2 separate regions of the Homo sapiens genome follow, and region 2 is linked to region 1. Evidence: fine-mapped expression QTL. Tissue or cell type: whole blood. Region 1 holds a variant in brackets; the other region holds the start of a gene. All regions are shown on one strand. Distances are from middle to middle.

Region 1 (5,146 bases):
AGATTTTTAATTTAGGACCCAGATGGAGTAGAAGGTAAGCCTCCAAAAGGTCTGCTTTCCTCAGTGTTTTAGTGTCCCAGATTCCTGGCAGGCAGCAGTCTCATTAGAAAAGCAGATTGCCTTCTGACTCACCCACTCAGTGCGATGCGAGACAGCCCCACAGCCCTCACAGCAGCCCATATTCCTGCTGGACAGGGCAGAGCGTGCACCATCCATTTTATAGCTGCAGTGGCTACAGACGCCTGGCCCAGGCCATGGAAAACCTTGAGAGGAGATAGTCTGTTACGGACAGGAGCTTTGTCCTGGAATTTCCTGGCCTTTGTCTGTCTGGGATAACTTCATGTACTGAGACGCCTGTTTTTTAGAGTCTTCTTCCTTCTGGGGGAAGAGTGCTACTGCCTGTCCTCCACAGAGCACTTTTGCTTCTACCAAAGCCATCTTCTCCCTGCTGCCTGCCCGTGATCACCCATGGTTCGGAGGTGAGGGGAGCACTGTGGGCAGGTGTGTGTACCTGGCTTGCAGTATACTCCTGAAAGTTGCCTGTCACAAAGGAAAAGCCATAACCATTGGACATCAAAGCTGTGTCTTCCAGCCCGGCCCATTCACTCTGGTCCTAACCTTTGTCTGTCTCTCATATTGCAGCAGAAAAAGTCCTACCTGGAGCGAAGCGTTAAGGAAGCTGAGGACAACATCCGGGAGATGCTGATGGCACGAAGGGCCCAGTAGGGAGCCTCTCTGGGAAGCTCTTCCTCCTGCCCCTCCCATTCCTGGTGGGGGCAGAGGAGTGTCTGCAGGGAAACAGCTTCTCCTCTGCCCCGATGGATGCTTTATTTGGATGGCCTGGCAACATCACATTTTCTGCATCACCCTGAGCCCCATTTGCTTCCCAGCCCTGGAGTTTTTACCCGGCTTTGCCTGCCACCTCTGCCCAGGACACTCTTCCCTCTCGGGATGTGTGATGAACTCCCAGGAGAGGGAAGATGGGAGCCAGGGCAAGATAGGAAGCTCTGCCTGAGCTTTCCACTAGGCACGCCAGCCAGACCAATAAAAAGCGTCTGTCCCACTCTGCTAAGCCTGGTTTTCTTGAGCAGAGGGATGGAACAGAGGGTGAGAGAGGCAGTGGCCGTCTCCACCTCAGCTCCTGCTCCCTCTGCATCAGAGCCCTTCCTTTCTTGGGGGATGGGCCTTGCCCTCTTCTCTTTTCCCTTCCTGTACCTTTGACTAACGCTCAGCTTCCGGGCCTGCATGCAGTAGACAGAAGAGGAAGAAAGAACAGATGTTCACAGCTGAATCTCAGTGAACAGAATAGCAGTCCCTGGATGGCAGTCTGCCTAAAGATTCCTTTCCCTGCCTTCTCCCATACATTCCAAAAGGAAGTTCAACAGTAAGCAGCACCTCCAAGACTGTCTCCTTTTGGCCAATATCATAAGATGGACGCCATAATCCTGAGGCCTCCTAGAGGCTGAGGGGGCAACGGTGTGATCCAGCTGGCTCATCCCAGCCCAGGTGGGCCAATTATTCAATTTTCAAGAATTTTGTTGCAAGCCAGTTGTCAAACACAGCCATTATAATTATGTAAATTTGCAAATTATGTTAAAAACAAGGACAATAAATATTCAAAATGCATCCCTAATTACTACATTTGACCACGATCTGTGCTCTATCTGTGCACTGACTGTGATCTGTGAGGTTGGCTCTGTTGTGTCTGGGTGGTAGAAATCCCACATGATGTCAGGTCCTGTGCTGCCCTTCCCAGCTCCAGTCAGTGACATCACATTGGTAACTTGAAATCAGCCATGGCATGGTGAGAACACGTACACCACAGAAATAAGACACAGGACATCAGAAATAAGACACAGGACATGCAACAAAACATGGCTTTTTTTTTTTTTTTAAAGAGAGCACCGGTAAACATTTATCAGCACGTCCACTGCTTCGGAGGGAAGGCAGAGTCGGCAGGGAGCTAGCTGTCAGCTGCGGCTTCTCGGGCTGGCTGGGCTGGGCGGGCCAGCTGATGGAGGAAAATCGGACTTGCTGCTATGGCAGCCTGGCGCCACCCTGTGGCCAAATATGAGATGAGTGGCACGGCTGACGAGCTGGGGTGAGGGGTGAGGGGACATCCAGAAGGGAAAACTTCAGCCAGGAGCGGTGGCTCACGCCTGTAATCCCAGCATTTTGGGAGGCCGAGGCGGGCAGATCAACTGAGGTTGGGAGTTCGCAACCAGACTGACCAACATGGAGAAACCCTGTCTCTACTAAAAATACAAAATTAGCCCGGCCTGGTGGTACATGCCTGTAATCCCAGCTACTCAGGAGGCTGAGGCAGGAGAATTGCTTGAACCCAGGAGGGGGAGGTTGTGGTGAGCCGAGATCACGCCATTGTCCTCCAGCCTGGGCAACAAGAGTGAAACTCCATCATCTCAAAAAAAAAAAAAAAAAAAAAAAAAAGGAAAACCTCTTGGCTGGCCCCATGTAATTGTAGGTTCCTGGGTTTCCAGGGAGCAGGCCTGGAAGCCACTCCAGGGGCAGCCCCTGGTTACCAAAAGGCCCTTTCCTAGGCTCTGGGTAAAGGCAGGTGCAAGATGTGGCAAATGCTCCTCCCTGAGCCTATCTCTGAGTGGGACTACGGGGAGAGTAGCTTGGCCGGGAGCCCATGACCCAGCTGGAGAACACCTGGCCCTCAGAACTGGCCGCCTTTGTAGCACCCTCACTGTTTGCATCACCACCAGAATAAAAAGGTAGATTGGCTGCTGGTCATACATTGGATGGTGGCCACTAGCTGAGATAGATACCCACATTTTATAAGCCTCAGTGAGCAGATGAGTAGTTAGTTAGACATGGTAACAGTCCAGGAGACAAGCACAGACTCCAGGTAGCTTAGCTTAGGCCTGGAATCATTTAGACAGACAGTTGAGCTTTGGACAAATTTA[T/C]TGAAACATACAGGCGGCTGTTAGCAGAGAAATCATTCCATGATTGATGTGTTACATTTGGCCACTACCTTGAATGTATAATTTAAAAATTATATTTTTCACAACTAAGCCTTTGGCCAAAAAAGTCATTTAGCACATCTTTAAAGATCAATAAGAAATGGATTTTGGACATTAAAAAGATCAAGTCACTGAATTAAACAGTAGCAACCCCCATTAATCTAGAATCCCATAGTGCTGAAGGTAGAGGTGTCTGTGCAAAGCTAGTCATTTGTTAACAGCAATCAGAAGAGATGGGGGCAGGCACACCTGTCAGAGGTGGCAGCAGAGCTGGCAGGACAGGACGGCTGGGCTGGTCTGGTCAGGTGAGCATGTCCCAGAGACAGCAGCAACAGAGAGCCGTCCAGCAGGCTGTGAGGCAGGTGGATGGTCCTAGCTCATCTCTTCTTTGGTCTTCTACCACATACACTGGAGGGAGAAGAGGGAAGAGGGTGAGAATGGACTGGTGCAAACCCCAGGCCCTGCAAAGTTAGCCTCCCAGGACCACAGGAAGGCTACACCAGGGGAAAACTATTGAGCAGACTGGTGAAACCGTGTTCCTGCCATTGCTGCTGCTGAATGGAAGGAGGGTGGCTCAGCTCAGCTGCTTTCTCCCTCCTGCCACTCCAGACTCAGGACGCCCTCACCCTCACAGGGACAAGTACTAGAGAACTTGCAGAATGGCCCCATGCCAAGGCAACCAGAGTTGGCCAACCCTACTTGGTTTGTAAACCAGGTAGCATGTCTTCCCCCCTGGAGGGGAACTGGGGGTCATTTCTTGGGATACAGCTGACCCATCACCCAAGAATAACAGAGGAAAGGGAATTAAAATCTCCTTTTAAAGGGGGGCTTTAAACCCTTAAAGAATAATCAAGAGCCCTGGTTTTTCATTCCTGGGCAATACACAATTTCAGAATGTGCCCCCAACCTCTATACCTTGACATAAACGATGAAGGAAGGCAGGGATGAAAACCTGGCTGAGTGGGATGGGGCGGCTGGAGCCTGTGTGGTGTCTTCCTGAGCCTAGCATGCTCACTTTTCCTCCAAATGGAGCTGGAAACCTGAGCCCTGTCATGGCCAAGTGCTCTATCGAGAGATCTGAGTGCTAAACAAATCCATAGGTCAAGAAGGACCCCAACTACCCACTACTTGTTAGCTGATTTGCGGCATTAGCTTCTCTTCCCATAAGGACATATTTTAAATGGCTGCTAGTCAATCTGTGGCCACTGAAAATCTCAAAACAACCACTGTCATCAAACTCATAAGCAGTAAGCATTTCACTTTTCCAAAGTTCATGAATGCATGAATGTTATCAATTAAGCCAGTCCTTTAGGGGTTTTCTTTCAGTTTTCTTGTGTTTTGTATCTGTTTTTAGACCTCTCTCGGCAGCGCCTCTCTCTGGAGCCTGGTGTCATTGCTATTACAGGGCACGCTGAGTGGGTTAGTAGGGAGATTTTCCAGGTCCTCCCGTTGTATCAGCTGCCCTCTACTGCACGGACATGTTCCTTTTCCTTCTCCTATGGCACAGGTTTAATCCTAGTCCACTTGCATTTGGCTCCACTCAGCAGCACAGGTCTGGGTCTAGATGCCCTTCACCAGGAAAGCCTGCTCAGAGGGAGAGGATGAATGGCTCATTTATTCTGAGGCCTCCTAAGGTCAAGTACCTGATTTCGTCTTCACAGCAACCCTGAGGTAGATACTACCATCATTCCCACTTCACAGGCAAGGAATTCGAGGCTTAGAGAGCTCAAGTCTCTCGTTCAAGCACATGTGACGAGGCAGAGGCAAGGGCAGAATCCGAACCCAGGCCTTTATGGCTCTAAAGCCTCTGGCAAGCCAGGCTTGCTCATACCCAACTGGGATAGAAAAGGGATCAGAAAGAGAACAGAGGTGACTGGGGCTACAGCAAAGTCATCTCTCACATCCAGCCAGAGCCTACCCTACCCACTGAAGCCTGGCCACCCCAGGCCCTGGGGTCACTGCAGCAGGAAAGCCCCAGGCAGAGTGTCCCTTCCATCTGCCTGGATGGCCTGCCCACCCCGGGATCCTGCATGGGCAGCTCTGGACAGGGAAACCAGAATACAATGGCATGCAGATCCCCTTGAATAACCCCTTCCCTGTGCTCTCCCTGTCACAGGATTGGCTCGCCTGCCCCTGGGACAGAAAGCCCCTCCCCTGCC
Region 2 (5,146 bases), 69 kb after region 1:
CACCTCAGCCCAGTCCCCCTTAAGAAAGAGCATTTCTATTAAAGGCCAGCCCTGTTGTTTATTATAGTTTGTATTTAGGGAAACACACTAACATTTTTTTCCTGACAGTAAAGTCTTAAGTTCTCTACCAATGAGAAAACTTGTGGGGGTGGCTTGGGTGAATGAAAGCAGAAAATTTCCAAAAACTTTTGGCCTACTTAACTGCCCTGACAGCACATAGTTATTTTGTTTGGGAAAGGAGGGGGTGGACTGTTTCTTTCCAAAGGAACCATAATTAGTTGGCCACTTCAAATAGTATCAAAGAGATTTGGAAAACAGTTACTTTTCTAAATTTTTTAATGAGGCCAAGACATCTGATTTCCAGCGATTCTTAATATTAACAAGCTCCTGCAAAGCCCCTTAAAAATCACTATCATAATCTCTACCACTCAACAGGAACACACGGGGAAAAAACTACTCTGGCCTTTTACACACTTCGGGGCTTCTTTTACAGAGAATGACTTCACTGATCTGACTGGAAGTCCCGTTTCCCCAGGTCTCACCCTGGATTTGCACTCCTTTGAGTGCTGCACCGGTTTCTATATTTACGCACAAACCAGCTGCGGCCACCTTCCTTCGCAATTCCCAAACCTGCCTTTCACTGTACAGGATCCCTGGAGGTCCAATTCTGTTTTCTGGAGTCAAAGAAATACAAAATAATTTCACTACCTCCCAGAAAACAGACTTTGGTAAGTTTCAATATAAAATAGACAGCTCTTGAACCCAGGAGGCAAAGGTTGCAATGAGCCAAGATCTCGACACTGCACTCCAGCCTGGGCGACAGAGCAAGACTCCGCCTCAAAAATAAACAAATAAATAAAATAAAATAGACAGCTGTGTATTTTTGGTCCTAGCACCAATAAATTTCAGGGCTGGGAAAAATCATAAATTACCAAAGCATTCCTCTTCATATAACCAAAATATATTTTTCCTGTTGCTCAGGAAATTAAGACAAAATAGCCAACTAACACTTACGCAGCCTTACACGGAGAAACTCAAAGCTGGCAGGAAAGGACTAGAGATTTTTTTTTTTTTTTTTTTGAGACAGAGTCTCGCTCTGTCGCCCAGGCTGGAGTGCAGTGGCGCAGCCTCGGCTCACTGCAAGCTCCACCTCCCGGGTTCACGCCATTCTCCTGCCTCAGCCTCCCGTGTAGCTGGGATTACAGGCGCCCGCCACCACGCCCGGCTTATTTTTTATATTTTTAGTAGAGACGGGGTTTCACCGTGTTAGTCAGGATGGTCTCGATCTCCTGACCTCGTGATCCGTCCGCCTCGGCCTCCCAAAGTGCTGGGATTACAGGTGTGAGCCACCGCACCAGGCCAGGTCTAGAGATCTTTGATCTACAATCAACAAATAGTATGGGACTCCTTTCAGCGAATCCAATGCCCCACATGAATGTTTGGATGCTGGTTCTCCTTTAATAACTTCCCCCTATTAAATCTCTTACCAGTCATTTGGGGTTTGGGTTTCACCCTAGGGATACAAGGTGTTTGTAAGTCACTCTGAAACCTCTGAAGGGCAAAGTGTTGTGGACGCTATAATCTCCCTGCATACTGAGGGGGGCATAGCTCCCAACCAGTCATTAAATCCCGTCAAATGAGATACTCGAAAATGAGCTGCCCTTGGGTGGGTCCTTTCATAAAAAGGAATTTTTAAAAATCTGCTAACATGGTTACTCCACAAAGTTTACATGTATCATATTGTATAAATCTATAAATATGTACAATTATTTTTTGTTTAATTTCTAAAAATTTGCCAACAATGGCTGAAAAAGGCACCTGGCTGCCTGAGCCCCTACCCTTGTCGGTTACAAGTATTTCATAAGCAGGGTTTGAGGAATCCCATCAGAGAAGAGTGTTGTCACCTTTTTGCCGGAATGTCACACCAACTTCCTCAGTGTTCCCCTCACACCAACTTCCTCAGTGTTCCCCCTACCCCAATCTAGCCAACGTTTCAATGGCTCCCCACAGCACACAGTGCCTCTCAGGTGGGCACTCAAGGGTCCTTTCCTAATCCTCCCTAACCTAATTCTCCAAACTTTTTTTCCCCCAAAACAGCCCAGCAGACGGTCCAGTCAGTCCCCAAATCGTTTTTCCTCATGGTCTCCTTCCCCAGGGGTCCTCCCCTCCTTCTCTCCCCCCTGCAACCTCCACTGCTACCGGGAGATTAGTTCCCACCCGTCAGGACCCCGCTCAGATTTCACTTCCTCCAACAGGTCCGCTCAGATCCCAATCCACGGCTCTCAACAGCAGCCGGGATTCCTTTCCCCCGCAACGCCTTCTCTGAACACCCCGGCCTCCGAGCGCCGGCTTTGCGTTCCCTAGTTACTTCCAGTCACTAGTTACTTCCGCTCCGCTCCCACCCGCGGGACTCGCGACCTGCCCCCTGCCCCCGGCTGGCCCAGCTCGGAATAGGCAGAGCAGCGCCTCAGAAATCGCAGCCCAAGGCGAAGAAATCCAGAAGCCTCCCGCGGACGTCCCCCGGGACGGGGTGTGGCGAGCCCCGCTCCGAGCCCGCCGACTCCTCGTGAGACGAGAACCGCAGCGACGCGGAGACCCTGTGAGTCCACCGCCGAGACGCGCGGCGCGGCGACCAGGAGCCCCAGAGTAGCCGCGGGGCGCCGGGAGGGATCCAGCTGGCGGCAGCAGCTTCCCTGCCTCCCTGCCCCTCCCCAGGGGCTGCGCGAACCCCTGCCTGAGCCAGGCCAGCCCGGGTGCCCCCCAGTTCTCAGGGCGCTCCCCAGGGAGCCCGGGGACGCGCCCTGTCCGTGCCTGATCCCCGCCCTGGTCCCAGCTGGGTCGGGCCAGGTCCGCTGCACCTCACCTCTCCTCTCCACGAACCGACTGGATAACGGTCGGGTCTGAACCTGAGGAGCCCGGACCAGCCCGCAGTAGACTTGCCGCACCTGTCTCAGAGCAAGTGAGGAGCAGCCGGGCGCCTGACGTCACGGCCGCTCCCAGCGCCGCGAACCGGGAGTCACCTGATCACCCTGGCAACGCGCGCGGCGCGGGGCGAGGCGAGGCTTGCGTCACAGCACGAGCCCCGCCCCCAACTGCTCGGCCTCCAAGCGCCGCCGGAAGCGCTCTCTTGCAGTCGGCGCAGTCGGGAGGCGGGGTCGGTCTCCGACTTCCCAACGTGGGCCTCCCAGCTGCGCTGGATACTTAGGACTCCCACAGGCGTCCCCCTCAGATTGGATTGGTTCTCCGAGACTCCACCCGATACCCCAACTCCGCTAGTTCAGGCGCCTGGGAGGCAAGACCAGCGTCCATGCGGAACCCTGCTCAGTGCGTGGCATGAGGGGTCGGCTGTGGGCTGCTGCCTCCTCGTGTCTTGTTGGTCCAGACCCAACTAGGGTTGGGGGCTTACTTCCCGAGCTGTACCTGAGCGGAATGGGGCTGAGGCTGATAACTGGATTGCTCTCTGGCTACTTTTCCCCATAAACCTTGCAACAAGTAGTCCCGCCAGTACTTTAGAGTGTAATGAGACTTCATTCACATCAGGAGGGGGAAGGGGGACAGAATCTTCTGTCCTGAAGGTTTCCTTCTTCTGTTCCAACAGGAAGAGAAGTTACCGAAAAGCTCCCAGAGCAAGGCCTAGAATGAGCTTGCAAGTCCTACTTGCAAAAAATTTTTTATTTTTCATTTTAGAAATTGATTTTCTCTCCATATTCCTCCCCTTGCTTGCTATTAGGTTGGTGCAAAAGTAATTGTGGTTTTTGCATTTTTTTTTTAAATGGCAAAAACAGCAATTACTTTTGCACCACTCTAATATAAGTATATGCCTACAACTTTTGTTACTCTCTAGGCTTCCCAGATAAGACTATCAGCTTCGAAATGAAAATTTAACATCCCCTGGAGGTCTCAGTGTGAGAGTCACTGCCTATTTCACACCTTCACTATTTGCTGACTTTCATTTCAGTTTTACTCTCCTCATCCCTGCACTGCCAAGAAGGTTTCATATGTATTGAAACCTTCCCTCTCAAGAGTTTAGGATCTTAGACCAAGAAGTTAGTTTATAGTCAACTTCTTGTGAGCATCTTTTAGTGTCAGGCAATGGGCCATGGGCAGATTGAGATGTGGTTCTCGAAGATCAAACGTGTATGGGTGGTATGTCTCACATAAGTACAACTTGTACTGTTTATTATGACTTAATCATTGTATTTAAGTGGCACTTTTTAATTTTCACACTTAAAGAAACTCATATAAGTGGGAAAGAAGACAGCTGTGAAAGGTAGAGAAGAACCATGGCTCTAGACAGAGCTGTACTAATAGGAGAGAAGAGATTGAAAATGTGAGCCCAGGTCCCAAGGAGCACAGAGGCATGGTCAGAAGGTTGGTAGGAACAGGACAGAGGCAGCCAGGCCTGAGGTGTTTGGCAGATCTGAGGAGGGCAGGGATAGAGGGTGAGGGGAGGAGTGGGGCCAGAATGAGGCTTGAGGGATTCAATGGAGGGCGAAAGTGCTGGGAAGGGAGGAGGGATTGGAAAGAAAGGAGAAGTATGCAGTGGTTTGGGAAGGAGTTGCTGAAAGGGAGGGCAGGGTAAATAGAGACCCAGGAAAGGGTGCTAAGAGCATTAAGAGAAGGGAGGCTGAGAGGCTACAAAAAAGGACTGAGGGGGAGGAAGAAGCAGGTGGGAGACTCTGGGGCAGCAAACATCTCAGAACCAGTCAGTAGGTGGTGTCCTTCAGAGGCTGTTGGAGAAGAGCAGCATTGTCTGTTTGCCTCTGAAGAGTGAAGGTGATCCATGCACACCCCAAACTACCTCTGGACCATCTGAGGGTAAGAGCCACCCTTTGCAGAGCACTAATGCAGAGGGAAGAGCAGAAACAGGCACGTCCATAACTACACCCTGATAGTACTCAAGGCAGTCAGGCTTTTTGGCTGGACAGTTTTTCAGGCCTGTGGTACATGCCTCCGTGCCTCTAATCTGGGCAGGGCAAGGTGAGGATGGAGTGGAAGGCAGGGGTAATTCCCTTAGAAGGGAGGCAAGCTTCTCATGGCAGCTGGGTCATATGAAGGCTGTGCTAGGGAAGAAAAGATGCTAGGACACATTCTCAGTACGCTCCCTGACCACTCCCCTTTTACTGAGTTGGTAGGGTGAGGGCGT

The links. PIP is the estimated chance that this variant, and not a neighbour inherited with it, causes the effect.
Region 2: it holds the start of CYSTM1, and the variant in region 1 is fine-mapped to the expression of CYSTM1 in whole blood (TOPMed, PIP above 0.99).

Annotation. Positions count from the first base shown.
Region 1 is chr5:140,241,554-140,246,699 of GRCh38, reverse strand. It overlaps CYSTM1 (cysteine rich transmembrane module containing 1), which reads right to left. Exons shown (of 3, transcript NM_032412.4): 3 at 2,911-3,395. The coding sequence ends at 3,289. PFDN1 (prefoldin subunit 1) reads left to right here. Exons shown (of 4, transcript NM_002622.5): 4 at 643-1,665. The coding sequence ends at 726. Among named protein-coding and RNA genes, the nearest start is that of PFDN1, 59 kb to the left of the region's middle. RefSeq lists enhancers at 4,122-4,958, 4,959-5,146. The variant T/C (reference allele first, on the strand shown) is at 2,931.
Region 2 is chr5:140,173,003-140,178,148 of GRCh38, reverse strand. CYSTM1 (cysteine rich transmembrane module containing 1) reads right to left here and starts at 2,961. Exons shown (of 3, transcript NM_032412.4): 1 at 2,864-2,961. RefSeq lists a silencer at 2,574-2,863 and an enhancer at 3,154-3,383.